Regions from separate parts of the Homo sapiens genome. Here all the other regions are reported to be linked to region 2. Evidence: microRNA targets listed by miRTarBase, many of them from high-throughput screens and not tested one by one. Region 2 holds a microRNA gene; each other region holds the end of a gene's coding sequence.
The links. The annotated mature microRNA hsa-miR-4468 reads AGAGCAGAAGGAUGAGAU and lies in region 2 at 1,755-1,772, shown strand. An mRNA with a match to its seed (bases 2 to 7 or 8) in the 3' UTR can be bound and repressed. Matches are read on the target gene's strand: a 7mer-m8 pairs with bases 2 to 8, a 7mer-A1 pairs with bases 2 to 7 and ends in A, and an 8mer does both.

Region 1: the mRNA of ZNF843 is a reported target of hsa-miR-4468. The part of its 3' UTR that is shown has no 7-base or 8-base seed match.
Region 3: miRTarBase lists PER1 as a target of hsa-miR-4468. The part of its 3' UTR that is shown has no 7-base or 8-base seed match.
Region 4: miRTarBase lists CYP8B1 as a target of hsa-miR-4468. Seed matches in the 3' UTR shown: 8mer at 1,205-1,212 and 8mer at 2,100-2,107.
Region 5: miRTarBase lists SH2D4A as a target of hsa-miR-4468. Seed matches in the 3' UTR shown: 8mer at 4,325-4,332.
Region 6: the mRNA of TFCP2L1 is a reported target of hsa-miR-4468. Seed matches in the 3' UTR shown: 7mer-m8 at 1,102-1,108 and 7mer-m8 at 4,238-4,244.

What each region holds. Positions count from the first base shown.
Region 1 is chr16:31,431,389-31,436,460 of GRCh38, forward strand. ZNF843 (zinc finger protein 843) reads right to left here. Exons shown (of 2, transcript NM_001136509.3): 2 at 4,046-5,072. The coding sequence ends at 4,415. Among named protein-coding and RNA genes, the nearest start is that of COX6A2, 5.6 kb to the left of the region's middle. RefSeq lists an enhancer at 4,093-4,593.
Region 2 is chr7:138,122,049-138,127,120 of GRCh38, forward strand. It overlaps MIR4468 (microRNA 4468), which reads left to right and starts at 1,710; the gene lies at 1,710-1,773. It also overlaps the pseudogene RCC2P3.
Region 3 is chr17:8,136,334-8,141,405 of GRCh38, reverse strand. It overlaps PER1 (period circadian regulator 1), which reads left to right. Exons shown (of 23, transcript NM_002616.3): 23 at 66-934. The coding sequence ends at 338. It overlaps TRS-CGA1-1 (tRNA-Ser (anticodon CGA) 1-1), which reads left to right and starts at 2,444; the gene lies at 2,444-2,525. It overlaps TRT-AGT5-1 (tRNA-Thr (anticodon AGT) 5-1), which reads left to right and starts at 1,881; the gene lies at 1,881-1,954. RefSeq lists an enhancer at 839-1,517 and silencers at 1,915-1,964, 2,325-2,494, 2,515-2,574.
Region 4 is chr3:42,869,885-42,874,956 of GRCh38, reverse strand. CYP8B1 (cytochrome P450 family 8 subfamily B member 1) reads left to right here. Exons shown (of 1, transcript NM_004391.3): 1 at 1-2,765. The coding sequence ends at 646. Among named protein-coding and RNA genes, the nearest start is that of CYP8B1, 3.5 kb to the left of the region's middle.
Region 5 is chr8:19,394,112-19,399,173 of GRCh38, reverse strand. SH2D4A (SH2 domain containing 4A) reads right to left here. Exons shown (of 10, transcript NM_022071.4): 10 at 2,956-4,624. The coding sequence ends at 4,532. Among named protein-coding and RNA genes, the nearest start is that of SH2D4A, 83 kb to the right of the region's middle.
Region 6 is chr2:121,220,074-121,225,145 of GRCh38, reverse strand. It overlaps TFCP2L1 (transcription factor CP2 like 1), which reads left to right. Exons shown (of 15, transcript NM_014553.3): 15 at 759-5,072. The coding sequence ends at 805. Among named protein-coding and RNA genes, the nearest start is that of TFCP2L1, 63 kb to the left of the region's middle.

The sequences.
Region 1 (5,072 bases), not on the chromosome of region 2:
TTGACTCCCTCCTCTAGCTCCAAGAAGGGCCACATGATCCAGGCCTACCCAATCAGAGCATTCTATTCTCCAGGTCATAGTGATTTTTTTTTTTTGAGACAGAGTCTCACTCTGTCCCCCAAGCTGGAGTGCAGTGGTGCAGTCTTGGCACACTGCAACCCCTGTCTCCCATGTTCAAGTGATTATTCAGCCTCAGCCTCCTGAGTAGCTGGGATTACAGGTGCACACCACCATGCTTGGCTACTTTTTTGTATTTTTAGTAGAGATGGGGTTTCACCATGTTGGCCAGGCTGGTCTCGAACTTCTGGCCTTAAGTGATCTGCCTGCCTCGGCCTCCCAAAGTGCTGGGATTACAGGCGTGAGCCACCCCACCTGGCCGTAGTGATTGTTTTTTGTATTTTGTTTTGAGACAGAGTCTGGCTCTGTCACCCAGGCTGGAGTGCAGTGGTGTGTTCATAGCTCACTGCAGCCTCGAACTCCTGGGCTCAAGCATTCCTCCTATGTCAGCCTACCAAGTAGCTGGGATTATAGGCACAAACCACTGTGCTCAGCTAATTTTTTAATTTTTTGTAGAGATGGGTCTCACTGTGTTGCCCAGGCTGGGATGATTGTTGTAGGGAGGGGCACAAGTCCATGAGTTCCAATTTTCAGGCCTGTCTCTTGGACTGTTGAAACACAATTATACTTCAACTGGACTTGGAGCTGCTGGAGCCTCAGGCTGGGGCCTTCAATTGAAGCCAATATTGAAGCCATTTTCAGAGCAGACCTGAAAAATGGGAGATCTAGCCTTGTTAATATTATGTGAATCCCTGAGTCAAGATGTGCCGGAATTGAGAAAGAGCTGAACTCTTAAGACTTTTCAGTTATGTGAAATAACAAATCCCCTATTCGTAAAAGCCAGTTAGAAATGGGGCTTTAAGTCCTAATTTATTGTTAAACATTTTTTATGAAGCTATACCACATCTCTAAACTTTTACCAGCACATTTCTGATTTCTGTTCCCCTGTACTGTGATCCATATTTTATTGAAGTTTTGGGGCTTCTTTTGTAGAAATGATAGAAATGTATTTAATAAACATTCTGGAGTATGCATGCCTTTAATGAATTAAACCTCATAGGCACTTGATATGAAGGGATTTAATGTTTGTGAAAATGAAGTGAGACAAATAAATTACACATTGAGATACAGCCCAAGTTGCTAAATGTTTAAAGGTTGAGGCTTGTAATTTTATTTTCTTCCATTTCATAATAGTGTAGTGACACATCACAATACATCTCTACACTGTGACTTGATTTCTCCCGAATCTGTGTCTGATGCTGGGAACACTGATGTTCTGGCTGAATCCATGACACTTGCACACTTGTGCTCAGTTTGCCTCATGACTGGGGTCACTCCAGCCAAGGCTGCAAACTAGGACAGAGTTTGAAACTGGTGCTCCCCTGCGAGACCTTTACTTCACATATTACAGAACCAGGACCACTAGGCCAGCTGGTCTATAAAGAGCGCCTAAAATGGCAACCTATTAATCTCAGATTTTTTTTTAGATGGAGTCTCACTGTGTTGCCCAGGCTAGAGTGCAGTGGTGCGATCTCAGCTCACTGCAGCCTCAGCCTCCTGAGTAGCTGGAATTGTAGATGTGTGCCATCACGCCCAGCTAATTTTTGCATTTTTAGTAGAGATGGGGTTTCACTATAATCTCACCATCTGAAATTATGGCCAGACTGGTCTTGAACTCCTGACTTCAGGTGATCCACCTGCCTCAGCCTCCCAAAATGTTGGGATTACCAGCGTGAGCTACCGTGCCTGACCATAATCTCAGATATTTTCTAAACCAGTATTTTGCCACCAGTAAATGCTGATTATTAAAAATACACTCAAAGGCCTTTTTGTCCTATGACTGATGCTGCTGAAAATTTGATGTAACCATCTTGGCAATTTGTGGTAATCTCATTTCTACAAATGTGTGGAGGAGATGCACGAGACCCGAGTAAATAATATTGTTTTCAGTTGCTTTTTTCTGTTATCACTATAGACATAACCGTGGAATCATCGAATGACAGGCACAGTAACCAGGAAGACATAGATTGATTGGGTGGGGTCACCTTCATAGTCACCTTGGCTAACTTTCCAATTATGTACACATTGTATCTTGGGAGGACAACAAGGATGAAAGAAACCCAAGTTTTAGCATAGAATACTTGAGCAGCTGGAAGTGGTTCCTTCACATAAGTAATATTAATTGAGCACCCACTGTGAGCCAGGCCCTGCACCAGGGTCTCTGCTCTCGTGGAGCTCAGTCTGCTGGGGAGATAGGTTACCAGACAGACATGCCCTATGTTCTTAATGCCACTGGAGCACTCACCACGTCAGGTGTGACACGAGAGGTGGGGCAGTCTCTAAGTGGAAGTGGGGCTCATATGAATGAGTAGGGCAAGTCTGGGAGACAGAAAAGGGGAAAGGTCATTTTGGGCAGTGGAAAGAAATAAATCAAGTGCAAAGACACAGAGGTGCAGGAGGCCCTGGCCAGCAAAGGCACAGAGGTCAGGCGAAGCCCAATGGAGAAGCATGCATGCCACGCTAAAGCATTTGAACCCTGTTCTGTAGGCCCTGCTGGGGTCAGCGGAGGGGGTGGAGGGGTGGGAGTGGCAGGCAGGAGATCCTTTCAGGCAGGAGACTGACATCAGATTTAGTGTTGGAGTCTGGAGTCTGAGGGAGGAATCTATAATAACTGGTAGGTTCTATGGATGCTGAACCAGAATGCAGAGGCGGGAAGCAGGGGAGATTGGCTAGGAGTCTTCTGCAACAGTCCAGGCTCATGATGACAGGACTTGCACCTGTGAGAGAGCACAGGCCACAGAGGGCACGGGGTGCTGTCGAAAAACTCTTCTGAGGTACAACAAGTAGACGGCAGTGCCTGATACTACTTGGATTGGGAGAAAGAGGCATCAAGGACTGAGGTAGCAAGCTTGGAACTGAACCAGTAATGCTACCACAGACTTTCATGCAGTTTAAATTCTCATAGGGTAACTTTTCTTCCTCACTCTAATAGCACATCATTAAGACAACCAACAAACCAACAAACACTTTTTTTTTTTTTTTTTTTTTGATTCGGAGTCTCGCTGTCGCCCAGGCTGGAGTGCAGTGGCGCGATCTCGGCTCACTGCAAGCTCCGCCTCCCGGGTTCACGCCATTCGCCATTCTCCCGCCTCAGCCTCCAGCTTGGCTGGGACTACAGGAGCCCGCCACCATGCCCGGCTAATTTTTTTGTATTTTTTTTAGTAGAGACGGGGTTTCACCGTGTTAGCCAGGCTGGTCTCGATCTCCTGACCTCGTGATCCGCCCTCCTCTGCCTCCCAAAGTGCTGGGATTACAGGCGTGAGCCACCACGCCCAGCCGACAACTAACAAACACTTTTAAAAATACTTATCTAAAAAGCACAAGAGAGGCTGGGTGCGGTGGCTCATGCCTATAATCCCACCACTTTGGGAGGCTGAGGTGGGCGGATCACCTGAGGTCAGGAGTTCGAGACCAGCCTGGCCAGCATGGTCAAACCCCCTCTCTACTAAAAATACAAAAATTAGCTGGGCGTGGTGGTGGGCGCCTGTAATCCCAGCTACTCAGGAGGCTGAGGTAGAAGAATCGCTTGAACCCGGGAGATGGAGGTTGCAGTGAGCAGAGATCATGCCACTGCACTGCAGCCTAGGCAAAAGAGCACGATTCCGTCTCAAGAAAAAAAAAAAAGGAGAGAGAAATAATCACTAATATTAAGATAACACAATATTATTCCTGTCCACACCAAGAATATACCTTGTATATTATTGTTACTTCGATAATATACCTTGTATATTATTGTTACTTCGATAATATACCTTTGCCTACTACCTACCTAAATCCTTTTGTTATTTTAGTTATTTTAGAGAGACAGGGTCTCACTCTGTCTCTCACGCTGGGGTGCAGTGGCCTGATCATAGTTCACTGCAGCCTTGAACTCTCCAACTCAAGCGATCCTTCCGCCTCACCCTCCTGAGTAGCTGGGACTACAGGCCAGCGCCACCACACCAGCTCGTTTTATTTTTATTTCACAGAGATGCGGTCTCGCTAGGCTGCCCAGGCTAGTCTCAAATTCTTCGGGCTCACGCGATCCTCCCACCTCGGTCTCTTAAAGCGCTGGGATTACAGGTGTGAGTCACCGCCCGCAGCCGCACCTGCCTAAATCCCTTAATGTATAAGGGAAAGGAGCGAGAATTCAGGGGAAAAAAAACAAACAAAATAGCCCCCAGCACTTCTGAGAAAGATCTGCCATACAGAAAAGCCGTCCTGAGCGGGTCTGTGTGGAGGGAGGGGACTGCATCTCAGATCCACAGTCCACCGGCGGCTGCAACAATTCCACCCAGGGCTGCAGCACGCTGGTTCTTCAGTGTCGGGCCAGGTTGGACCTCCGGCTGGAGGCCTTCCACACCGGAAACACTGGTAGGGCTCCTCTCCAGTGTGGGTTCGAGGGCGGTGGAGGAGCTCGGCACTGTCGCTGAAGCCTGGCCCTGGCCTCGCCGAGCGGTCCGGCCGCTCTGTGCTGCGAGGCCTTCCGGGCTGGCTCAGGGTAGCCTGGGGCCTGAACCGCCTCCCGCGAGTCCCGTCCCGCGCTCGCACAGCTTCTGGGCCCCATCGCCCCCTCCTGCTGAGCTGCCGGCTGGGTGGCTGGCGGAACCTGGGCAACTTCCAGGCCTCCCAGAGGCACTGCAGGCACTGCGGGAAGGCCGGATGGAACCAGAGGCTGGAGACTGAGTGGGGGGCCAGGATAAAGGAAGGGAGGTCGGGGCAGGAGTGTGGATGGGGGCAGATGTTGAAGGAAGGACCCGGGGCTCCCACAGGGCCGGAGCCCAGAGGTGCTGTCCGGGGCGACTGAGCTGGGTGCGAGGCTGACGCTCTCCACGCTCCCACCCCTGCAGGTCTTCTCCCCTGGGTGCGGAAGGACGCGCTGGGAGAGGGAGGTCTTCTCATTGACACTGTCACCGCAGCTGCAGCAGCAGAAGGGACACACTCTCCTGTGTGAATTCGCTGGTGGCCGATCAGCT
Region 2 (5,072 bases):
GGAGCCTTGGTCTGGTGGGGAGTGCTGGGGGGTGCTGGGGAGGAGAGGAAGGGACAGGGGTGTAGGGGGAAGCCCTTCTATCCGTCTTTTTTTAACAGTTACTTCTCTTCCTTTTTCTGTCTGGTTTCTCATAACTCCAACCAGCAGAGACAAGCCCAGGATGAAGACTGGGCAGTAGCCTGGGAAGAACCGGGCTTCGGTAACCACAGGGGCCCCAGGCGGCCCGGGAAGCGTGGAGGTCCCAGCGTGCGGGCAGAAAGCCCAAGAGGCCGAGCGCTGTGGCAGCTCCATGGGGCCCTGGCGGAGGCAAGGGCACAGCGTGGCTGGCTGCATATGTGAACAAGGTGAGCGGCGGGGCCGCGGTCGTCGCGGAGTCTGAGCACACCAAGGAGCGCATCAGACTTCAAGGGTCGAAGTGCAAAGGGGCAGTTTTTGATTTCGGGGTCAACCAACTAGGACTCGATGGGTGGAAAAGAAGTGCCTAAACAGCAAGCTGCTTACCTCAATCTCGGTCAGAATTTGTGGGGGCCCCATAGATGTGGGTGCCTGGCGGGGTCCTGGTGCGGACAGCGGTCTCGGGTTTGCGCACTGCGCACAGTATCCTCATCACGACACGATGGAAGCTGCGGAGCTGGGGTCAAAATAAGAAGGCGCAGCTGGGACCTGGTGACACCAAGAGAATGGAAGCCCCCAGACTCATTGCGGGTCTCTGCCGGGAAGTGAGTATGTAGGCAGCCTGTGGGCGGAACCTCACCTTGGCCTTGACGGAAACGGGCTCTGCGTTTGCCTTTGGGGAGAACAAGATGGGGCAGCTGAGCCTCAGCAACCACGCAGGAGCATCCCCAGCACCGCACAGATCATGGACAACGGGCAGCCAATTACTAGAATGGCCAGTGGAAATGAATTCCGTATAATGGGCGACAAAGGAGACCTCTGTTCCTTCGTGTGCCCTCAATGTGGTCAGCTGGGACCCAGGCACAGTGAATAGTTAAGGCTGTGAGCTGGTGCTGGTGCCACGATGAGTGGCCCACCTTCACTGAGAATGAAAGATGGGTAGATTCTGCCTGTACCAAAGGTGGTTGTGAGACCCCCAGAGCAAGGCAGGGACCCCTCCCCATTTCCCTTACATGCTGTGCTGACTGAAGCTACATTCAACCTTGCAGCCACACAACCACAAACGTTTCCTTTCACAAAATAGACCAATCAAATCTGAGACAGAGTATTCTGAGCACAAGCATCTTGGCTAACAGTGGGCACTTTGCAAAAGATGCTCCCCAATGCACTTGCCCAGTAATGTCCTAGCCTGTCCTAACCTGGCCTTTGCTTCATTTCAGTAGTAAAAAGCACACCCCTGGGTGGAGATTTAAGATGCTAATGAGACATGCATCACATGAAGAAGCATGTCCAGAGACTGCATAGGTGCAACTGCCAAACCACCCCAAACATGCAATGATGTCACATGGAGGAGCTCCAAAGCAAATGAAACCCCAAACTAACCTGCAGTCAGGGAGCTAGCTGCAGGTCTCTTCCTGCTGCTACCTCCCCTTCTGCTCAAGCTGAGAGCTCCAATAAACTGCCTTGCTCAAGCCCATCTCAGATTCTTGGTCTATTTCTATTTACTAAGGGTCAAGAACCCACCAGCCAATAACGGTTGTGTAAGACGTGACCTGTAATGCTAACCACACATTGATTCTGGACTCCAAGAAATGAGTCTTCTCCTGGGGCTTTGGTGGCTATGGTTGACTGGGCCACTCAGAGCAGAAGGATGAGATGGTCCCCGCTTGGTGAGGTTGGAGTCTGACTTCCTTGGGTGTGGGGCATCCCAGATCCATGTTGGTTACACCTGGTCCTTTGCTGTCTGTGAAGTTGGTAGTCTCTTTTTCTGGGGGAGCCCAATATCTCCCATGAATCTTCCATGTACCTGAAAGCAGTGCAGGACCTCTGCGGCTGCAGAATCCAGAGCCTGGCTTGTGGGAAGAGCAGCAACATTGTGGCCGCCAATGAGAACACCATCAGCTGAGGGCCATAACCAACCTTTAGGTAATTGGGATACAGGGACCATGAGCCCAAGTCTTCCACTGCAGCCCAAGAGGTGAAGACTCTGAATGGCATCTTTTCAAAGCAGGTCTCCATAGGCTACTCACACTCCTTGGTGATAGTGCGAGATGAAAGTGAGACCAGGAAAGAGAAGATCAAGAAACTGCTAGAGCCGGTTGCGGTGGCTCACTTGTAATCCCAACACTTTGGGAGGCCGAGGCAGGCGGATCATCTGAGGTCAGGGGTTCGAGACCAGCCTGGCTAACATGGTGAAACCCCGTTTCTACTAAAAATACAAACAAATAGCTGGGCATGGTGGCACATGCCTGTAATCCCAGCTAATCGGGAGGCTGAGGCAGGAGAATCGCTTGAACCCAGGAGGTGGAGGTTGCAGTGAGCCGAGATCACGCCATTGCACTCCAGTTTGGGCAACAAGAGTGAAACTCCAACTCAAAAAAAAGAAAAAAGAAAAGAAAGAAACTGCTAGAATACAACCCCTGAACCCTTTGATGCTCCTGGGGACTCCTGCAACTCCACCCGTCTCCCAGAAGCTGTCATTTCCTGTGCAGTGGGAGGTGAAGTCAAACAAGGAATTTTAAAAAGCAAAAGTTAGCCAAAGTTGCATTTTTGTTAGACTCCCTGAGGTTCCATTTTTACAAGGGATCCAATGTTAATTATCCTTTTCTGCATACTTTTAAAAGTCTGTTTTTTTCTCTTCATGTTTAATTAAAATATTTGCTCATATTTGGAAAAAATATGAATTGTTATAAAATAGTGGAAAAGATATCCAGACTCCCAGTGAGGACTGTGTTTCCCATTATGCTTCACCCAAATTAACTCAGTCAATTCTAACTTTCAGGAGTATTCACTTGTTATGCCCCACTTCCACATAGCGATTTTTCCATCAGGATGTTATTAGTTCCTAGTAATAGAAATGCAATTCAGACTAGTTTAAGCAGAAATAGTGAATTCACTTTGTCACAGAACTGGAAACAAAGAAGTGCAGGGGTAAAGTGGCTGTAAGCAGCTAGAACTAGGGCTCAAGCAGTGTGTTTACAACTTGTGACTGTTTTCACCCCGTTGGACTAGCTGTCTCCAGACAGCAGGCATGAAAGCAGGCAAGATAGCTCTCAGCAACACTCTCCTTCACTCAGATTAGGAACCCAGAAGAGAGTGAGAGTCTTTGGTAATAGCTCTGTCAAGGAAGTAATCCTGGGAAGAACTCTGACTGGCCAACATGCATCATGCTGGAACCAATGGTGATGGCCTGGGGCAGACTGAATGGAAGGGCCTGAGACATAAACTCATCCCTGTGCAGAGAAGAAGCAAGAGAGGAATGAGAGAGACAGTGGGAGGGGGATGGAAAGGCAAGAGGGTAGGAGCGAGTGGAACAAGAGCAGCACTAAGGAGAAAGGAATCATAAGGAACTACAATCCTGCCTCAATCACCAGAAATACGTTGCCCCAAGAAGCAGGCAAAATAAGAGATGTCTGCAACAGGGACTTTCAGGGCGTGGAGATAAATAAAATTTAAAAGCTATTGGAACCCCCCCCAGAACACATTAAGCCCTGAGTGAGATGTGACTATGATCTGAGTCACACATGGTTACAACTTCTGTTCTCAGATAGATTAACTCACTTTCTTATTTTTCTTGTTCTGCACAATGACTAGAGTGAATTCAACTACACCACAGATAAATGCCTCCTGCCTTCTTCATTAATGGCCCTGGTCATAGATTCACTTCCCCTTTGCTGCCTCACTTTGCTTAGACCAGATGACAAAAAACGCATGACTATTACACCCTCTGTGAAAAGTGTTAAATGTCCCCTTCCCAAAAGGAAACACTGCCTATAACCAATCAAATTGCTGTAACTATGCACCAACCTTGTGTAAATAGTGTTGTAATCCCACTAAAATCTCTGTCTCTGTCTAAATAAATGAAATCTTAACTTCCCTACTTCAAAATGCTGACTCCATTCCTTTGGAGTTGGTGTTTCTGGGTGGTCCGTCCTCACTGTTTGAGCTTGAATAAACTCTCTTTAAATTAGATTCTGAACCTTTTGATTATTTTAGGTTGACAGGAGTTTTGGAGTACTAGGTTTTAGCTTCCTGCTTCCCTCACTTCAGATTCCCAAAAAAATGATATAGTAGAAATCTCCATCAGCACTGAAAATTAAGAAGGTTGCTGCCTATCAGAGGGTGTAAATGAGAAGAAACTGTCAAAGTATAATTTTTTACAAATCAGGCCGGGCATGGTGGCTCACACCTGTAATCCCAGCACTTTGGGAGGCCAAGGCAGGCAGATCACCTGAGGTTGGGAGTTCGAGACCAGCCTGACCAACATGGAGAAACCCCGTTTCTACTAAAAATACAAAATTATCCAGGCGTGGAGGCGCATGCCTGTAATCCCAGCTACTCGGGAAGGCTGAGGCAGAAGAATTACTTGAACCTTGGAGGCAGAGGTTGTGGTGAGCTGAGATTGCGCCATTGCACTCTAACCTGGGCAACAAGCGCGAAGCTCCATCTCAAAAAAAAAAAAAATCAAAAATATGATTTTTATGTAAATACAAAATGAGTACATACCAGTGATTTAATTATCTCATTAATGATGGAAACAGAAAAACGGTAAGAGAAATACCAAGAGAATTGGAGAAAGTAAAATGTTTCAGCAGCTGAAAGAAAGGATGCTTGGATCAAATTGCTCATTTAGCTCCAAACCAGTTTAGCCTTCTGAAAGGCAATACAACTATATAACTTTTGAGTTTATCTTTTCTACCAGATTTAATAATTTATATCTCTACAATAAAAGATCCATTTGCATTGTTATTGGACAAGAATCATTTTCATCACTACCAGGTTTCTATTAGTTAATAACTACTCTTACAAAATTGTAAATTACCCTATTAAACAGTTCACTCAGCTGACCTGGGAAATCCAAACCCTGCACCTTCCAAAGAAAGGTCTGGCCATTAACCACTTATTGGGAGATAACCTCTAAGCCCTTGGAATGTCATTCCTGAGAAGAATGTCTTTGC
Region 3 (5,072 bases), not on the chromosome of region 2:
GCTGCGCTGGCAGGTTAGCAGTGAGAACCCTGTCTGACTCTCTCATGTCCATTTCTCTCACCAAGGCCTGTGTGGACTGTGGGAGCAGCACCCAAGATCCTGGTCACCCTGATGACCCACTCTTCTCAGAGCTGGATGGACTGGGGCTGGAGCCCATGGAAGAGGGTGGAGGCGAGCAGGGCAGCAGCGGTGGCGGCAGTGGTGAGGGAGAGGGCTGCGAGGAGGCCCAAGGCGGGGCCAAGGCTTCAAGCTCTCAGGACTTGGCTATGGAGGAGGAGGAAGAAGGCAGGAGCTCATCCAGTCCAGCCTTACCTACAGCAGGAAACTGCACCAGCTAGACTCCATTCTGGGACCATCTCCAGGAGTCCATGAGAGGCTTTCTTCTCCTATGTCCCAATTCTCAGAACTCAGATGTGGCTAGACCAACCAGTGGGAAACTGCCCCAGCTTCTCCCACCATAGGGGGCCGGACCCCCATCACCAGCCTAGGATCCAGGGGCTGCCTCTGGCCTCTTAGGGAGCAGAGAGCAGAACTCCGCAGCCCAGCCCAGAGGAGTGTCACCTCCCACCTTTGGAGAGGAATCCTTCCCTCCCCTGGACAAAGTTGCTGACAAGCTGCTGAAGTGGCCTCTCCATATTCCAGCTGAGCCTGAATCTGACTCTTGAGGGTTGGGGCTGCACTTATTTATTGCGGGGAGACAGCTCTCTCTCCCACCTCCTCCCCAGATGGGAGGAGAGCCTGAGGCCCAAGCAGGACCCGGGGGTTCCAGCCCCTAGCTGCTCTGGAGTGGGGGAGGTTGGTGGACCATGGAGTCCCTGGTGCTGCCCCTCAGGTGGGACCCAGGCGTTCTCAGCTGTACCCTCTGCCGATGGCATTTGTGTTTTTGATATTTGTGTCTGTTACTACTTTTTTAATACAAAAAGATAAAAACGCCCAGGACTTTGTGGAATGAAGTTTGGGGTTGGGGTGAGGGGAGCATGTCAAGGGGAGATGTGGCCCTGCTTTTGGGAAGGTTGTAGTGAGGGTGTACAGGGCCATCTCCTGACGACCCCCATTCCTCTTTTCCCCCATCCTGTCCAGGTGAGGGCCCTGCTGAGCCCGCTACGTCCACGTCCAGCTCAGACTCTGCTGTCCCCTCTAGCATGGCCTCAGCTGGGTTTGCCCTGGGAAGGAGAGCTGAGAGGTGCGTGTGGCCAAGGGCTTGGGTAAGCTCCAGCCCGGGTCACGGGTGGCCAAGGCAGAGGAACCCTGCTTAACTCCGTGGTGCCCTGAGGTATTCGAGGGTGTTTGTCTTCCTTGGCTTCCTTTTTTTTATTTGAGACGGAATTTCGCTCTGTCACCCAGCTGGAGTGCAATGGTGCAATCTCGGCTCGCTGCAACGTCTGCCTCCCGGGTTCAAGCGATTCTCCTGCCTCAGCCTCCCGAGTAGCTGGGATTATAGGTGCCCACCACCGCGCCCGGCTAATTTTGTATTTTTAGTAGCGATGGGGTTTCACCATTTTTGGTCAGGCTGGTCGCGGACTCCTGACCTTAGGTGATCTGCCCGCCTTGGCCTCCCAAAGTGCTGGGATTACAGGCGTGAGCCACCGCGCCCGGCCTTCCTTGGCTTCTTGGTCACCACACAGAGAGGGCCCTTCAGCAGGTCAGTCTAGGTAGCTAAGGGACACATGGAGTCATGTGCTCACTCATGGTTGAGTTGGCCCCAAAGGTGTGGAAGAATGGAGAAGCAAAGCATTAACCCTTTGGCTCAGAACCTGAAAGGGAAGAGGCACCTTAGGAAGGGATGAGTCACTGAGGAACCACTGCAGGCAGTTTGCTGATTTTCACTTACTGTCACCCACTAAGAGTTGATTTATCTTGAGGAACACCTGTTTTACGCCGGCGCCGTGGCTTAGCTGGTTAAAGCGCCTGTCTAGTAAACAGGAGATCCTGGGTTCGAATCCCAGCGGTGCCTGAGTTAGCGGGGAGTGATATATTATTGCTGCAAGTACACTTCTCCACTTTCAAAGGGCCTTTCTAAGAAACATTTCTTCTAGACTCTCCCTAAGATTCTTCTTACATGCCAATCCGTCTTTGGACCTCCGTTTCCCTGCACTTTTAGTGTGTATTGGAAACTACAGATTCTCACTTCGGTTTCATGAAGTAGCCTGAAGTAGGCATCTCAGGGTCTGTCCTCAAGAGTATGGAAGACAGGGCTCGGATTTGGACCCGTTTTGTTTCCATCCTATGCTCAGGGAGGAGAGGGAGAATAGGAAGGCTGCCGCTCCAATGGGGCTGCTGACGTCTGCTGGAGGGAAGGCATGGTCTGCGCCACCGAGCAGAGGCGCACGAGCGCAGACGTCTCTAGGCGGCGCGGGTGGAGCCGGGCGGAGCCGGGCGGAGCCGGCTGGAGGCGGGCGTGTTGATAGGCAGCTATAGTTGCACAGGGCCGACAGCGCACGCGGCTGTGATGGCCGAGTGGTTAAGGCGTTGGACTCGAAATCCAATGGGGTCTCCCCGCGCAGGTTCGAATCCTGCTCACAGCGTCACTAGTTTTGGTATTTAGGTATCTCGGTCTCTGGAGAAGGAAAAAGCAGTTTGTTTTCTGGTTCTTTCCTTGGAGAATCTCCCGCGTTATTCTGAGAATCTCAGAGACTCGGCCGTCAGGGACCAGCCCGCGAGCGCCCTCTTGCGATTCTCATAGTCCTATCGACCTGCAAAAACTTTTTTACTGCGGATTTCAATTCCTAACGCCACCACACTCGGGTGGCTCCTTAGTGCTACTCAGCAATCGTTACTTTCCTCCAATTCATTCACTCTCATACTGCCCCATGAGACTGTTTCATTCCTACCCTCACCTCAAACTACGAATCCCTTCTCAGCTTTTACTTCCTGATTCACTGAGAAAATAAACCATTCCGGAGTTCCCCATCAACATTCACATCGCACCTACCTACCTACCTACCTAATTGAGTCGGTGACCACGTACTCTTCTTTTCCTTCATTATTGTAGAAGAATGCTTCCACCTAAAGCCAACCCCTACTTTTACTAGATTTCCCATCCCTCTGGCCATCTCAAAGACACTGCTTTTTCCTATACCATCAAAATTTCCCTCTCAGCCGGGCGTAGTGGCTCACGCCTGTAATCTCAACACTTTGGGAGGCTTGACGGGTGGATCACTTGAGGTCAGGAGTCCGAGACCAGTGAAACCCCAATCTCTACTAAAAATACAAAATTAGCCGGGCGTGGTGGCTGACGCACGCCTGTAATCCCAGCTACTCGGGAGGCTGAGGCAGCAGAAGCTCTTGAATCCGGGAGACGAAGGTCGCGCCATTGCACTCCAGCCTGGGCAACAATAGCAAAACTCCATCTCAAAAAAAAAAAAATCCCTCTCTACTTGATTTTTCTCTTCAGCCTACAGACACTAATTTCCCCCAATTTAGAAGCAAGACAACAAAAGCTATCTTGACCCCACACGCCTGTCCAGCTACCACTCAATTTCTCTACTCCCTTCTACAGCAAACAGAGCAAGTTATCCAATTCCATCTTCCCACTCTCCTTTGGACCCTTGCTAATCAGGTGTCCACCGCCCCCATCAAAGCTGCCCTTGTTAAGGTTGCCGAATGATCATCACATTGCTAAATCTATTGACCATTACTTCGTGGAAGCTGATACCGATGCTCACTCTTCCATTAGAAACACTCTTCGCTTGCCTTCTAGGACACTACGTCCTTCTGATATTCCTTCTACTTCATCAGCAGCTTATTCTCAGACTTCTTTGCTGTTCCTCACCTTCTGGATCTCTAAATGTTGGACTGTTCCCAAGGCTCAATTTTCCAACCTCTTCTCTATCTGTACCCACTACCTTGGTCATTTCCAGTTTCATGGCTTTAAATATCAGGTAATACATTAATACATCCCAGATTTTCATCTCCAGCTCCAGAACTCCCCCCTGAGTTACAGATGCTTATGTATTATTGCCCACATATCATCTACACTTGGAAAAAGCTAATACAGATCACAAACTTAAAATGTGCAAACCAAGGCCGGGCGCGGTGTCTCGTGCCTGTAATCCCAGCACTTTGGGAGGCCGAGGCGGGCGGCTCACCTGAGGTCGGGAGTTCGAGACTAGCCCAACCAACATGGAGAAACCCCGTCTCTACTAAAAACAGAAACTTAGCCGGGCGTGGTGGCACATGCCTGTAGTCCCAGCTACTCGGGAGGCTGAGGAAGGAGAATCACTTGAACCCGGGAGGCGGAGGTTGCGGTGAGCCGAGATCATGCCATTGCACTCCAGCCTGGGGAAAAAGAGTGAAACTCCGTCTCAAAAAAAAAAAAAAAAAAGTGCAAACCAAACGCCTAGGCTTCTTCCCCAAACCTCCTTCACCTGTGATCCTTTCATCTCAATAAATGGAAATTCCATTCCTTCAGTTATTTAGACTAAAAACCTTAGCGTCGTCCTTGATTGTTCTCTTTCTCTCCCACTCTACATCAAATGAGCCATTTCTATTTACAATATGTTAGGGTCAGGTGTGGTGGCTCACACGTGTAATCCCAGCGCTTTGGGTGGCCAAGGCAGGAGGATCTCTTGCGTCCAGGAGTTCAGGACCAGCCTGAGCAACATAACAAGACCCCAGTCTCTGTGAAGATTAAAAAAAAAAAAAAATTAGCTGAGCATGCTTGTTATCCCAGCTATTTGGGAGGCTGAAGAGGGAGTATCACTTGAGCCCGGGAGGTTGAGGCTGCAGTGAGCAGTGATTACACCACTGAACTCTAGCCTGGGTGATGGAATGAGACCCTGTCTCAAACAAAAAAAGAAAAAAGTCTAACATTTGACTATTTGCCATTACACCATGGTCCAAGCCACCCTCATCTCTCACCTAGATTATTGCAATACCCCCTAAGTTATTTCCTGGCTAGTTCCAGAGTCTACTTTTTTTTTTTTTTTTTTTGAACAGGGTCTTGCTCTGCCTCCAAGACTGGAGTGCAGTGGCGTGATCTGGGCTCACTGCAGCCTCCTGAGTTCAAGTGATTCTCATACCTCAGCCTCCCAAGTAGCTGGGACTACAGGTGTGCACCACCACGCCCAGCT
Region 4 (5,072 bases), not on the chromosome of region 2:
GGGGCCTACCTCTTTCTGGGCCCTCTTGTACCTCCTGAAGCACCCAGAAGCTATTCGGGCTGTGAGGGAGGAAGCTACCCAGGTCCTGGGTGAGGCCAGGCTGGAGACCAAGCAGTCCTTTGCCTTCAAACTCGGTGCCCTGCAACACACCCCAGTTCTAGACAGCGTGGTGGAGGAGACGCTGCGGCTGAGGGCTGCACCCACCCTCCTCAGGTTGGTTCATGAAGACTATACCCTGAAGATGTCCAGTGGGCAGGAGTATCTGTTCCGCCATGGAGACATCCTGGCCCTCTTTCCCTACCTCTCAGTGCACATGGACCCTGACATCCACCCTGAGCCCACCGTCTTCAAGTACGATCGCTTCCTCAACCCTAATGGCAGCCGGAAAGTGGACTTCTTCAAGACAGGCAAGAAGATCCACCACTACACCATGCCCTGGGGTTCGGGCGTTTCCATCTGCCCTGGGAGGTTCTTTGCACTCAGTGAGGTGAAGCTCTTTATCCTGCTTATGGTCACACACTTTGACTTAGAGTTGGTGGACCCTGACACACCACTACCCCATGTTGACCCGCAGCGCTGGGGTTTTGGCACCATGCAGCCCAGCCACGATGTGCGCTTCCGCTACCGCCTGCATCCTACAGAGTGAGCTTGGCCAAGCCAGCTGCAAACCTGGCCAGAGGAGTTCTATTGCATCTCTCACCTGTTCTCACCCCTCTGCAGCCCCAAGACCCCACTGGCCACCCCTCCCTCTGGTCCTGTGGCACCCCCTACCTCTGTTCTGCCTGTCCTCGCTCTCTCCCCGCCTAGTCATCTGACAGGCTTATCATTCTCTTTAAAATACCATCTCTCAGAGTGGGTTCTGCCGAACCCTCCTCTCACAGGAAGTCCAGAGGAAGGGGGAGTATCTGTGGGCAACTTGGTTTGGGAGATGATGCCTGCCTTGAGAAGTCCTGAGTACAGAGACTGGTTCCCCCCAGACACGAGTAACATGGCATCTTGCAAACATCAGCCTCCACTCTCCCAGCTTGCTTTAGTTTTTTCAGCAACACTTATCCCACATCCTATGGAATTCAGGTTCTAGAACAGTGTCATCCAACATAAATATGAAGCAAGCTACATGAGTAGTGGGGTTTTTTGGTTTTGTTTGTTTGTTTTGAGACAGAGTCTTGCTCTGTCGCCGAGGCTGCAGTGCAGCGGTGCGATCTCTGCTCACTGCAACCTCTGCCTCCTGGGTTTAAGCAATTCTCCTGCCTCAGCCTCCCCAGTAGCTGGGATTACAGGCACCTACCACCTTGCCCAGCTAATTTAGTTTCCTGGTAAACACATTTTTAAAAAGTAAAATGAAACAATTCATTTTTATAATATACTTTACTTAATCCAATATATCCAAAATATTGGCATTTCAACGTGATCACTATTAAAAATTTTAACGTAATAGTTTTTACCTTCCCTTTTTCATCCTGTCTTCAAAGTCTGGTATGTACTGTACTTTTGCAGTTCTTCCCAGTTCAGACTAGCCACATTCCAAGTGCTTAATTGCCGTGTGTGGCAGGTGGCTGCCCTATTGGATAGCACAGGTCTAGAGAAATGATACCTTTTTTTTTTTTTGAGACAGAGTCTCACTCTGTTGCCCAGGCTGCAGTGCAGTGGTGTGATCTTGGCTCACTACAACCTCTGCCTCCCGGGTTCAAGTAATTCTCCTGCCTCAGGCTTCTGAGTAGCTGGGATTATAGGTGCGCACCACCACACCCGGCTAGTTTCTGTATTTTTAGTAGAGACGGCGTTTCACCATTTTGGCCGGCCTCCTCGGCCTCCCAAAGTTCTGGGATTACAGGCATGAGCCACTGTGCCCAGTCAGGATGTCTTTAATGTAGGAATCATTCAAGATCCCTCCTCAGTGCCCATGTCTCCCCCACCTCAGGGTGCTGTCAACCCTCCCTTGGTTTCCATGATCATTGCTGAACTCAGAGCTTTCTTCTATCCCCAGACCCACATGGGAGTCTCCCAGCACCTCTGACTCAGCTTGGCCAATGCAGAACTTGGCATCTGAACCCCTGCCTCTTCCCTGAACCACTCCTCCTCCTGATTTCCCTGCTCTCTCTGCTCAGAACACTACCATTCACCCCATCTCCCAGAGACACTCTCCCTCCTCCTCTTTCACCTTCATACAAGCAGGCCCCCGTCCTATCAGTACACCCCCCTGTGATGCCTCTGAAATATGTACCCTCCTCCCCTCTCCTACTGTCATTCTTATACCTGTGATCTCTGCGTTTCTCTTCTACACTGCTGCCAGAGGCCTTTTTGCCAAAAGCACTGCTGATTGTCACTCTTTTACTTTCCTGGTTCCCCTTTGACTTCACACACTTGACGTTTACATTTTGTCACAGTTGGTCCCCCTTGCCTTCACATACCTGATGTTTAAATTTTGTCACGGTTAGTCTCCAAACTTCTCAACTTTGCCAGCTTTCTCCAATGAAACCATCAGTAGAGACATTGCTGTTCCTGCCCATCCCAGTGCCAGCTACTCCTTCCTGGAAGCCTTCCTGGATTTCACGCATCCCATCCTCTGGCCAGAAATGGCCTCCGAACTGTGCAGCTCCTGCAGCACCATTTGTATCATAGCATATCTGTTATGTGTCGTTGCTTTCTGTGTCTTGGTTTCTGCCTGCTGCCCACTTCCCTAGACTGGAGCCTACTGGGGCATGGTATTTTATTCATTTCTGACCTCCAATTCCCTAAGTGGAGATTAAATGTTAGAAACCTGACTTCCAGTCTCGGCTAATTTACTTTCAGTCCTCAAATCATTTCCTGGCCTCAGCCCTCCAATCTATGAAATGAAGACAATCCCCCTTCCCAGCGTGCTTATCAGTGCTACAAGAGGGTGAGGGGGTGGCTGCCATAGCTGCAGCTGGCTGATGGCAGGGCTCCAGCTGGAGCTGGGACAGGAGGAAGAATGACTGTGGGAGCTGGATAGAGTGTCTTGGAGGAGGTGGGCCCAGGCTGCATGGACCCCCCGACCCAGCGACCAGCCAGTGGAACTTCTCTCTGCTACTTTTATCTTACATCTCTGGCAGCCTCACATTTCTCCTGAGGCTGGCTGCCTGTTCTGCTCTGCCAGGAGAGTAGGCAAGGGCCTGAGCTGGGGTGACAGTCTGTCTCCAACTAGCTATGTGACCCTGGTCCAGGGCCTGCATTTCTCTGAGGTCAGCTGCCCGCAAATGCTGATGTCTGCCTAGGGCTTGATAGAGCTCTGCCTGGTTAGGAGAAGCTGAGATATCCCATCCTATTCTACAAGGACCAGGAGCACAAGGAGAAGAGTTGAGTAGGGGGCATAGAAGGAGGAGAAATGGGCTGGAAGGTGGAAGACTATCCATGGGAAATGTACCAATGACATCTCTGCCCAGCCAGGCCCTGTGCCCAGTACAATGGGGCTGGGGCTGTGGGGAAGCAGGAACAGAGCCTTAACACACCTCCTTGGCCCTCCCTAGACCTTGGTGCTGTGTCTCCTTTTGTGCCTCACACCCAAAGGAATATGGGCCAGGAGAGTGGCCTATGGATTGGCTGGGGTGAGGCTGAGGGCTGGAGTTCCCTGAGTCAGGACCAGAAGGTCTCAACTGAGAGTGACCATGTGCAGATAGGAACTTAATGGACCCTGTGGCCTGTCTGAGAGCTCCAGAGGAGATGCTTGGGACCTAGAGAAGCCTCAGCGGGTGAGGTGTGAGGTGAATGCAAGTGTACCATCCCACAGTCAGGGATATCCAGCATAACAACAGGCCTCCCAGGAAGCAAGAGCCCCCCAGGATTGGAGTGTGGGCAGGGATCCCAATGCCCCATGCCCGCCTGCTTGCATGGGAGGGGCCCATGGGCCATATAGCTCTCTGCCCCCTGCATGAGGACTGCTGCAGCCAACCCTGGCAGAGGCCTTGAGGCAGGAGGAAGACTGCGACCGCCAAGGATGCCTCTAGTCACCACCCACCCAACCTGGTCATTCTGTCCCCAATTCCTCATTTCTATGCCAAATATTTTCTTCCTCTCATCCTTTTCCTCATCAGGACCTCAGAGGAAAGCCCACTAAATGCGTTCTCTCTGAAGATAGTTTATAATAAAGCAAGATCGGGGTGGCTTTCCAATGGTGGAATTTCAGGCACCTGGGAAAGAAAAGAGATGCTTTTCTCATAGAGAATTAACTGGAGTCAAAACATCACATTTCGTGGCGTTCAGCACAGGCAGCAGCCCTGCCCACAGGCAAAGCAACTTCTACACTTCTCCCTAGGTTGGCCCATGGGAAGAGTCCACCTTGCCTCAGAGCCTGAGGGTCAGAGGAATTCTGATTGCTTTCCTGAGACCCCTGGGAAAGGTTTGAGCAGTGCAGTCAGGGAGCCAGACTTTGTCAGGCCTCTGGGAAGACAGAGAGCAACAGGAGGGACCAAGGCCCAAACCCGGAAGTAAGGCTGGGGTGGAGAGGGCTTTATCCTGGCCTGGGCTGTGAGAGCTGCTGAGCTGCTCTCAAACTATATTGCACCTAAGACAGTGACAGAGAACCAGGTACCTGCAGCTAGCTCTTGCCCTCTCCTTTGGACATAGGCTTCAGGGCACTACTTGTTATATTCCTGCCTTTTGCGGCAAGTACACACTCACACATACACAGAGAAAGGCATGAAAGACAAATAGGACTGGGCGAAGTGGCTCATGCCTGTAATCCCAGCACTTTGGGAGGCCGAGGTGGGCAGATCACTTTAGCTCAGAAGTTTGAGACCAGCCTGGCCAACATGGCGAAACCCTGTCTCTATTAAAAATACAAAAATACAAAAGTTAGCTCATGCCTGTAATCCCAGCTACTCTGGAGGCTGAGGCACAGGAATTGCTTGAACCTGGGAGGCAGAGGTTGCAGTGAGCTGGGATCATGTCACTGCACTCCAGCAAGACTCCGTCTCAAAAAAAGAAAGAATAGGAAAGTTGCAGGCACATAACCAGACCCACTTGGACACAGTGATACAGCTGCATCATAACCACATACACAACCATATATACTACACACAGCCCACATAGCACACGTACTTCCCAGACAGATA
Region 5 (5,062 bases), not on the chromosome of region 2:
AACCTGCTGGGCCTGCTCTCTACTATACTGAGCAGCCTGATTATCAAATAATGTGTTTTTACCACAATTAAAACAGGGTACTTTTATCATTTAAGCTTCCTGACAATTGTCAGTCTGGGGAAGCAGTGGGAAGCCTAAAGATCTTTGCATAGGGAGAGAAGGTAGGATGGGAAGTAGCTAGACATGTAAAAGTGGTACTAAAATCCACCTGGAGGCAGTGAAGTGCAGAATTAACATTGCTGAAAATTTAATCACTGATGGGAAAAGGACAGATGCAAGAGCTCTCCCAAAATACAACAGAAAAGAAGGGAGAGATGAAAACAATGGGGGTGAGAATACCAAATGAAAAGCAAAGAAAAATCCAACATTTATAGCTATTCCCAAGGAAGAGAAAAGCTAAATTCAAACAGATTATTTAAAGATACAGTCGTTGAAAACGTATGTTCTAAAACAAAACAAAACAAACCCTGTGAATTGCAGCCTGAAAGGAAAGCATGTACCACGTTCTGGATAAATATGAAAGCAAAGAGGCCCCATGGAAACATATCCATGCATAGCCCATGCATTTGTGTCTTCTCTCACCAAATAGCAGGAGCCCCAAAATATGTATGTGTGGGCCATAAACATGTTAGAACTCCAGTGCATTAAGAAAACTGCCTTTACAAAAGGTGGCAGTTGCAAAACTTTAAGCCATGAATTTTTCTTTTTTTAATCTAAAAGCAGATTTCATGTCATATTAGCAAAGGATGCTTAATTCCAAAGCATTAGCTCAGATAGGCAATTTTGGGTGGAAATGTCCCGGAGGTATTTTTGGTGACCTGACTGACCATTGCCCATCTACTTTTTTCTTTCTCTGATCCTTTTTTTCCTAACTTGCCCTGTGTTTTCTCCATTTTTAGGGTAAGCTTTGGGCCAGAAAGCACCTTTTTTTTTTTTAGACGGACTTTTGCTCTGTCACCAGGCTGGAGTGCAGTGGTCTCGGCTCACTGCAACCTCCGGCTCACTGCAACCTCCGACTCACTGCAACCTCTGACTCCCAAGCTATCTCCTGCCTCAGCCTCCTGAGTAGCTGGAATTACAAGGCATGTGCCACCAAGCCCAGCTAATTTTTGTATTTTTTTTTTTTTTTTTTTTTTAGTAGAGACGGGGTTTCACCATGTTGGCCAGGATGGTCCCGATCTCCTGACCTCGTGATCCACTTGCCTTGGCCTCCCAAAATGCTGGGATTACAGGCATGAGCCACCGTGCCCAGCCAGAAAACACTTTTTCAGACTGACTAGCACTGCTGGTGACACTCAGGGCCAAGCGACCTTCCTTGTGCATCCTACTGCAGCAGGGTAGGGCAGGAGGCCAGAAGCAGGGTCCTTGCAAGTGACCTGATAGGTCTGTGAGCATCTGGCAATACGGTGGCAGCCAGAAAATCTTACATGACTGTGGGCGGGAGATTCCAGAATTGTGGGAGAGAAGAATCTAGATGGGCAGGAGTATTTGGCCACAGTCCCAGTGAGTCAGGGTCTGCAGACCAGAGCCCCTAGGCTTGAGAACCAGGACAGTAACATGAAAGCAGCATTCCTAGACCCAGAAACCTTGCGCAGGCAGGTCAAGGAGCTGGGCTTGCAGAGGCAACAGGAGGAGGAGACCAGGGTCAGAGTTTGGACATCTTCACCTCAGACCGTAACTCAGGGTAAATGTAGGCAGGACAGAGACCACAGCACTGCTCGGATGACCATTCAGGCCTCCTGAATTCCATTCGGTTGAATTCAGTTTCTGAAATCTGTAAACCATTCTCCTTCCCTAAGAATTTCAAGTGTCATTCGTGCCATCATATCATCCAACACTGGACAGTGTATTCCTCTATCAATCAGCAACCAACAGGATAAACTAGTCCGGAACCCACATCTGCTCCCCTGTGTAATATTGGGTGAATTCAGTTGGGTGACTTCCTGTTTTCTAAATCTTCCTTTAATAGGATGTTGCTTTGTGTAGTTATATCTGGATATGGCCACAATTATTTCCTACAAGATAACTGTAGGCACAGGGGGGTATTGGATTTTTTTTTCCCCCAGCACGTAGTCTTGCTTTGTAGCCAGACTGGAGTACAGTGGTGTGATCTCGGCTCACTGCAACTTTCGCCTCCCAGGTTCAAGCAATTCTCCTGCTTCAGCCTCCAGAGTAGCTGAGATTACAGGTGCATGCCACCGTCCCCGGCTAATTTTTGTATTTTGAGTAGAGACGGGGTTTCACCATGTTGGCCAGGCTGGTCTTGAACTCCTGAACTCATGATCCACCCACTTTGGCCTCCCAAATTGATGGGATTGCAGGCATGAGCAACTGCACCTGGCCAGTACTGGAATCTTACATCTTCCTAATTATTAGTGGTGACAAGTGGGTACTTTCCATTCATTCCAGTGAGAAGCACTAGAACCTTAAAATTTCAGAATTGGATGAAAATAACAAAGATCACCCAGTTGAATCATATTTTTTTTTGTTCAGAAGCAAAAACTGAGGCTCAGAGACAAACTGTCCTGTCCAAGATTATACAGAAAATGGTAGGAAGAGTTGAGAAGTTTCTCAATAATGCCATGACTGTTGAATCATAGGAACAAAAGCCAAGAGATGGATCCTTACAATAGTTTAACAATATAAACCACATGGAACATTTCAAGAAAGAGTTAAACAATGATCTATGTTTAAAAGCTATCTCTACCTGGCATAGTATCTCACATCTATAATCCTAGCACTTTGGGGGTTTGAGGCAGGAGGATCGCTTGAGGCTGAAGTGAGCTGTGATCGCACTACTGCATGCCAGCCAGGGTGTCAGAACAAGACTCTGTCTCTAAAAATAATAATCACCATCATCTTTCTCATTAGAACACACATGCCAACCATCCCCTTCTCTGGCTACATTTTATAGTCAATGAGTGCTGTACGCAACCAACAAGCTTGTAACAACACTGCTGTATCATTCTGCTTTTATTAGAAGGCAATGTAAAAGAGTATTGACCTACACAGTTAGGCCAGAGGTACTAGCCAATCTCCATCCTCCAAGAAAAATGATCTCCAGTGGCTCAGAGCCACCTCAGTCCCTGTCCAGAGGCCGTTCGCCTGACTGGGACTGGACTGAGGTGGGCGGGGGTTCCAGGAGGGCATAAGATTCCTGACGGGACAAATATGTGTGCCAGGGCTAAACAGAACTGGCTGGAATGTTTTTCTTACCTCCCATTTCTACTTCATTATGAAAATGGTGGACTGGGCAGCAGTGAATGGGTCGATCTTGTGTGTCAGGTTATGTAATTACATAAACGACTGTATTAGCTTTCTGGGGCTATAGTAACAAGTCAGCATGAACTCAGCATGAACTAAGCAGCTTAAAACAACAGACATTTATTCTTCCAGTTCTGGAGTCTGGAATTCTGAAGTCAGGGCCATGCTTCCTTCTAAGGCTTGTGGGGAACCTGTCCCATGCCTCTCTGCTGGCTTCTGCTGGTGGCCGGAGATCCTTGGTGTCCCTTCCCTTCCGGCTGCATCACTCCAACTTGCCTCTTGTCCCCTGGTCTTCTTCCCACTGCATTTGTGTCTATTACCAAAACTCTCTCTTCTCCTAAGGATGCCAGTCATTGGATTTGGGGCCCACCCTAATCCAATGTGACCTCATCTTGACTATATCTGCAAAGACCCTATTTCCAAACAAGGTCCCATTCACGGGGATGGGGGTTAAGACTTCACCATATATTTTGGGGGAACACAATTCAACCACAAGTAGCATCCAAACAGCCTGCTTATTCTGTTCTTGTCTAAGCACTTCTGATAAAAAATAAAAAAATACATGTACAGATGCTTTATCCTTTTGGTGCACTATAGAGTATATCCAGGGGAGGCCAGGCCAGCCCCGGCCCCATTCTCCCGAACAAGAAAACAAACTCAGCGATGTTTGCTCACTTTCCTGCAGGTCCATCTGTATTTTCATGCATGTTAAGCCTCTCATTCAATTTACATTCATGACTTCTGTTTTTCTATGTCTCTCATGTCCTGGTTCCAACATGTACAATAAGTGAGGTGTGTTTTAAGCATCATCTCAGCCAGGAAAGGCTTTTGCTACCATTCCAAAGCCAACATGAAACTTCGAAACTTCATGTCAACAGGCCCCTGAAACCTCCTGAGATGATACAGAGGGAGTGCAGGGGTCATATGATAGATATTCGTTTTCAAGTACACCTTAATTTCTAAAAGTTTTCCATTTCTTCATTTGTTTTATTTTATGTACATCATTAAGGTCATACCCTTCATGACAGGTACTTGCTGAAATTGAGACTCTTCTCCCTTTTGAGCAGAGGTCATTTTCTCTTGACATTGAATTCCAGTATTTGTGCAGAAAAGAGGTGTCAATGAGGACTCCATGGATACTTTACTTTCAGTTGATCAGTATTGGCTCTGCTGCAGGGTGATTTTGGCTTCACACATAAATGTTGCAGTGGCATTTGTCCAGGGGAAAGCCCGCTTGGAGGCTGTAGGATGACCCTGATGGAGGCTGTCACTCAAACAGCTCCAGGTAGTCAGGCAGCTGGTCCTGCTGACCACAGGGATAGAGAAGGAGCTCCTTCCCCAGGGAAGTGATGGGTTCCTCCTGTCAATCAGAAGGCACGGGGTCAGATAGTGTAAGTAGTGACCACATGCTCTTCCTACTTCCTCAGAGGACATCACTAGCTGCCTACCCATGATTTACACAAAGCTTTTGTGGTTTATGATCATCTTAAAAGGCATTTTTCTTATCTACATGTGACCAGGTACTCCTTTCCCTTCAGGGCTTGAATTCTAACTTAAGGCCTATGAATTCTCATAGGTCAGGGGTCCCCAACCCCAGGGCCATGGACCAGTACCAGTCTGTGGCCTGTTAGAACTGGGCTGTATAGCAGGAGGTGAGCAGTGGAGTGAAGCTTCATCTGTATTTACATCTGCTCCCTGTCATTCACATTATCGCCTGAGCTCTGCCTCCTGTCAGATCAGTAGCAGCATTAGATTTTCATAGGAACACAAACCTTATTGTGAACTGTGCATGGGAGGG
Region 6 (5,072 bases), not on the chromosome of region 2:
TAGAGAAAGATCTGCTGTGGCCTTCCTAAGGGTTGGGGTGCATGTATAGGATATGTCAGAACAAAAGCCCTCTGACCGACTCATAGACCCTGGACCATGATGAGGCCACTTCCCACCTTGTCCCGTGGATCTAGCCACCGAGTGTCTTTTTTTTTTTTTTTTTGATGGAGTCTTGCTCTGTCACCCAGGCTGGAGGGCAATGGCGCGATCTCAGCTCACTGCAAGCTCCGCCTCCCGGGTTCACACCATTCTCCTGCCTCAGCCTCCCGAGTAGCTGGGACTACAGGCGCCCGCCACCAGGCCCGGCTAATTTTTTTGTATTTTTTTAGTAGAGACGGGGTTTCACTGTGTTAGCCAGGATGGTCTTGATCTCCTGACCTCGAGATCCGCCTGCCTTGGCCTCCCAAAGTGCTGGGATTACAGGCGTGAGCCACCACGCCCAGCCACCACCAAGTGTCTTTGGGGCCTTGGGGGCCATAATATCCCTGAGAACCACAGTTGTCCAAATCCTCCTTGGAACGTAGGTTTTCATCCTTGGGCCTGGGGCTATGGTAGAAAGACCTATTGTTAAAAAGACACTAAACGAGGCAGATGTCAGGGCATGTGAGATCCCTGCTTCTGCCAGCACGCTTTGCTGTATGCAGCCCTATTTTGGTGGTCTTTGCTGATACCCTAACAGCGTGCCTTTTGGGACTCCCCAATACTGTGGCACTGCACCTTTTTTCCTGTGAAATACACCCAGTGTTTCTCTCTTGCAGCTGAGAGCAATGATGGCTACCACATCATCCTGAAATGTGGACTCTGAGCAGCAGTGGACCTCATACCTGTCTCCAGCTCCCAGCCCTGTGGATCCCCGTGGATGTAGACATTGCCCCACTGTAAGCTGTGGCCTCACCAGGCAAGCTGAGGCCAGGAGGGACCCTGCCCAGTCTGTGAAAGCTACAGAGCACCAACCAGCAGAAGCCTGTGGACACCAAGTACGGTGTACAGAAAGCCAGTGGCTCCTTTCTCCCTTCCTCTTGGCCTCCAGATTTTGAATGGTTCCTTGTTCTTTTCTATTGGTCCAACCCTGACGTTCTAAAAGGGCAAACAGTGGAGACGTCTGCTCTGAAATCCCTCATCCCTTAGTTGGAAGCTGATTGGGTATCTTGGTGCTGCCTGTATTGGTCCCTTCTGACCACTCTCCTGCCTCCAGAGAAAGCTCTGCTTCACCCTGGAAGCTGGTACCTTTACCTCCTCCTCTGGGAGTTGGCTGCATGGCCAGCACTGCCGACTTGATGGGAGCAGTTTGCCCTCATTCTCCTGTTTCAGGTTTGCTTCCCTTCTCAGTGACCCTGGTGAGCATCCGCCTTTCCTGTTCTTGGATGAATTGATGGGAGTGGGGCTATTCTGTGCCTTCTACCTCTTTCTTCTCTACGTTGTTTCTAAGGATCTGCTGCTGCGGAACCCAAAGATGTGCTCCTGTCTCTGCACTGGCGCATTGGCATGGTAGATGCCACAATGTATGTGCACGGCCTTTCTCAGAGACATTAGTTCTGAGGCCCTTTGTGGGGAGGTTAGGGGGATGGTAATAGAAAAAGACTATTTTATTTCCTGGCAATCACGGGTAAGGAGGATTAGGAATGAGTATTCCATTCCTAGGTGTCATCAGATGACCTTGACCACCACAATACCAGGCCCTCTTGGATGGACTTATAGAAAGTTAGAGAAGACCTTGTTGAACCGCTGCTAAACTTGCCACAGGAGCGATGTGTTTTCTCTGAGTGCCCCTCACTTACATGTTTATCTTTGTTTGTAGAGGCTATGTTTAGGATATTTTGCCTGCATCAGAATGGGTGCATCATCTTTCTTAATGGCCTAACTATCGGGAAATTTGAGTGTCAGTAACTGTGGTAGACTCAGAAATTCGTCTTTGTCTTGCCTCTGGTTCCTGGGATCCAGTGATCTCTACTGGCCCAGGGCTTCAGCTCTTGGTTAATTTAGGTTCATGGGGAACCCTCTGACCACCTGAATGGGATGTCATAGCTTCTAAATGGAGCTTCTGTGGAATGAAGTGCTAGACTGAAGGACTACCAGAATAAAACAGGGTCTACAATGGGGAGAACTTGTTTTATAGATGAGGAAACCAAGGCTCAGAGGGGCAAAGTCACCTGCATGGTAGCACATAGTGATAGGGTAGCGATATAAATTTATCATATAAACCAGGACATCTCGGAATAAAAGGGGCTCTGTTAGTCATTATGTTGGGTAATAGCCGTGGCATTCCTACAGAACAGAGTGAGGACAGGCTCCTGATTCCTCTTCCTTCTTTAGAGGAGAAGCGGGGAGTGGGTTAACTAACAGCTTTATTGAGATGTCATTCACATGCCATTCAGTTTACCCATTGCTAGTGTCCAATTGTATTCACAGAACCACCATCAATTCACAGAATTACAGTCAACGTTGGTACATTTTCATCACCCCCAGTAAAACCCCGTACCCTTGGTCTGTCACTCCTGCTTTCCTAACTCCTGCAGTCCAAGGCAGCCATGAATCTACTTTCTATGTAAGATTAACCTACTCTGGACATTTCATATATCTGGAATCATGTGATATCTCTTTTGTGACTGGCTTCTTCCACTGAATGTTTTCTAGGGCCGTCCAAGTTGAGGATGTATCAGTACTTCATTCTTTTGTATTGCTGAATAATACTTCATTGTATAGATAGACCACATTTGTTTATTGATTCATCAGTTGATGGACATTTGTGTGTTTTTACTTTTTGGCTACTCTGAATGATGCTGCTATGAACATATTTCTACAAGATTTTGTGTGGACATATGTTTTCATTTCTTTTAGCAATATACATAGGAGTGGAATTGCTAGGTCTTACAGTAACTCCGTGTTTTAACTTTTTGAGAAACTGCCAGACTGTTTTCTATAGCAGCTGTACCATTTTACATTCCCACCAGCAATGTATCCAGGTTTCAATTTGTCTACATCCTCATCAACACTTGCTATTATCTGTCTTTTTGCTTTTAGCATCCTAATGAGTATGAAATGCTATCTTGTGGTTTTGATTTGCATTCCCCTGATGGCAACTGATGCTGAGTGTCTTTTCCTGTGCTTACGGGCCATGCGTATTTCTTTGGAGAAAGGTCTATCCAGGTCCTTTGCCTATTTTTAATTGAGTTGTCTTTTTTTTTTTAAGTTTTCTGTTTTCCTAACCACTAGACTACCAGGGATGAGCCTTCTTTTTATTATTGAGTTGGGTGAGCTATTTGTATATTCTAGACGCCAGTCTTTTATCAGGTATATGACTGGTAAAAATGTTCTCCCCTTCTGTGGATTGTTTTCAGTTTCTTGTTGGTGTCCTTTGAGACACAAAACTTTTTAACTTTGATGATTTCCAAGATACGTATTTTTTTTCTATTGTCACTTGTGCTTTTGGTGCCATATCTAGAAAACCATTGCCTAATCCAAGGTCAAGAAGATTAATGCCTGTGTTTTCTTCTAAGAACTATACTTTTAGTTCTCACAATGGTCTTTGATCCATTTCGAGTATATTTTTATATATGATGTGATGTAGGGGTCCAGCTTCATTCTTTTGCTTGTGGATCTCCACTTGTCCCACTGCTGATTATTGAGAAAAATATCCTTTCTCCACGGAATTGTCTTGGCATCCTTGCTAAAGGCCTCTGCTTCTTACTGGATCTTCTTTCCTGGGACATGGTGTCGTTGGGAAGCTTACCTTTTTTTTTTTTTTACTTAGTCTGTGTTTGGTTCCACCAGTTTTATGCTGCCTTTCTACTCTGTTCTTGCTGTCTCCCTCTTTACCTGAGTCAACGGTACTGAGTCCTATCTCTCTCTGATGTTCCCCAGTCTTCCTTGGTGCATGTTCTAGCTCCACACACTAGTCCTTGGAGGAAGGTTGAGACCAATGATTTCCTGTTATGAGTCATGAGGAAACTGAATCACCTAGAAGTGGAATAATGTGCTCAGGGTCACCATAGCCCATTAGTGGAAGGACCAGGACTAGACCTTTAGTCTTCTGAGGTCCAGCCCCTTAGGCTGTCTGTCATCACTGTACCCAAGTGATGTCACTACCAAGGCCAAATGATGGTGGGCTAAATTTTAATTCTCAAAAGTGTAGGAGGCTAATATTGTCTTCTAAGTTCCAAAAGAAGATGTAATAAAAGTCTGTTACCTTAAGTGTGCTATTAGTAGAGTCTTCCATTTTTCTGGCATGCCCCTGGCATCTGCTCTTCTTACCTTCTCGTGGTTGTAGTTAAAGCTTATAGCTTATGAAAGAATAGAAAATAATAAATACCAAAAAAAAGTACACATGGTAATTTGGTACCAAAATATCTCAGCTGCCTAATTTAGCAGCTCATCCCTTCCACAGGGGTCAGATGAGCTAAAGCTCCAGGTTTTATTTTTCATTTGATTGACATACAGAAAAGCCATAGCCCTTCCCACAGCTGTCCAGGGTCTTTCCTGTGAGTCCGGAGGTGCTGGCCTATTGAGCAGGACAGCTCTTCCCAGGGCATTCCCACCAACCTGTGGCTTCTGAACTGTAGCTTCTTTTTACAGTGAACCCCAGAGGGAAATAAGACAGACACATGTGCTCAGGCCACCATCTTGAACTGGAAGCCCAAAGCTGAGTTCCTTACTCTTAGGTCGTCACGGTTTTTGCGGGGTATCTGCAAGGTTGAGATAAACCCTTTCCTGTTTACCAGGTTGTCCTTTCTGGATGAAGGGACAGAGGCTGTTGAATGGAGGAATAATAGGTTTGCTGGAGGAGGGGCATGGTATGCCTGTGGAAAGGACAGGATGGGGTGGGGAGGTCGAGGCTTTGACTTGGGGTCCTAAACAAAGGTCAGGTGTTGCCCTAGTGACCTCTTGCCCAGACAGCCCAGAGCCCCTTACACAGAGCTATTAACCTAGGGAAGGCTTTACCAGCAGTGGACTGGAGCCAGCCAGGGTCACAAGTTTCCAAGTCCAGCATTGCTTCAGGGGCTGGCCTGAGTAACTGAAGATCTGAAAATCATTAACAAGTCGATGAAATAAACGGAAAAGCCTCTTAGGCTGTT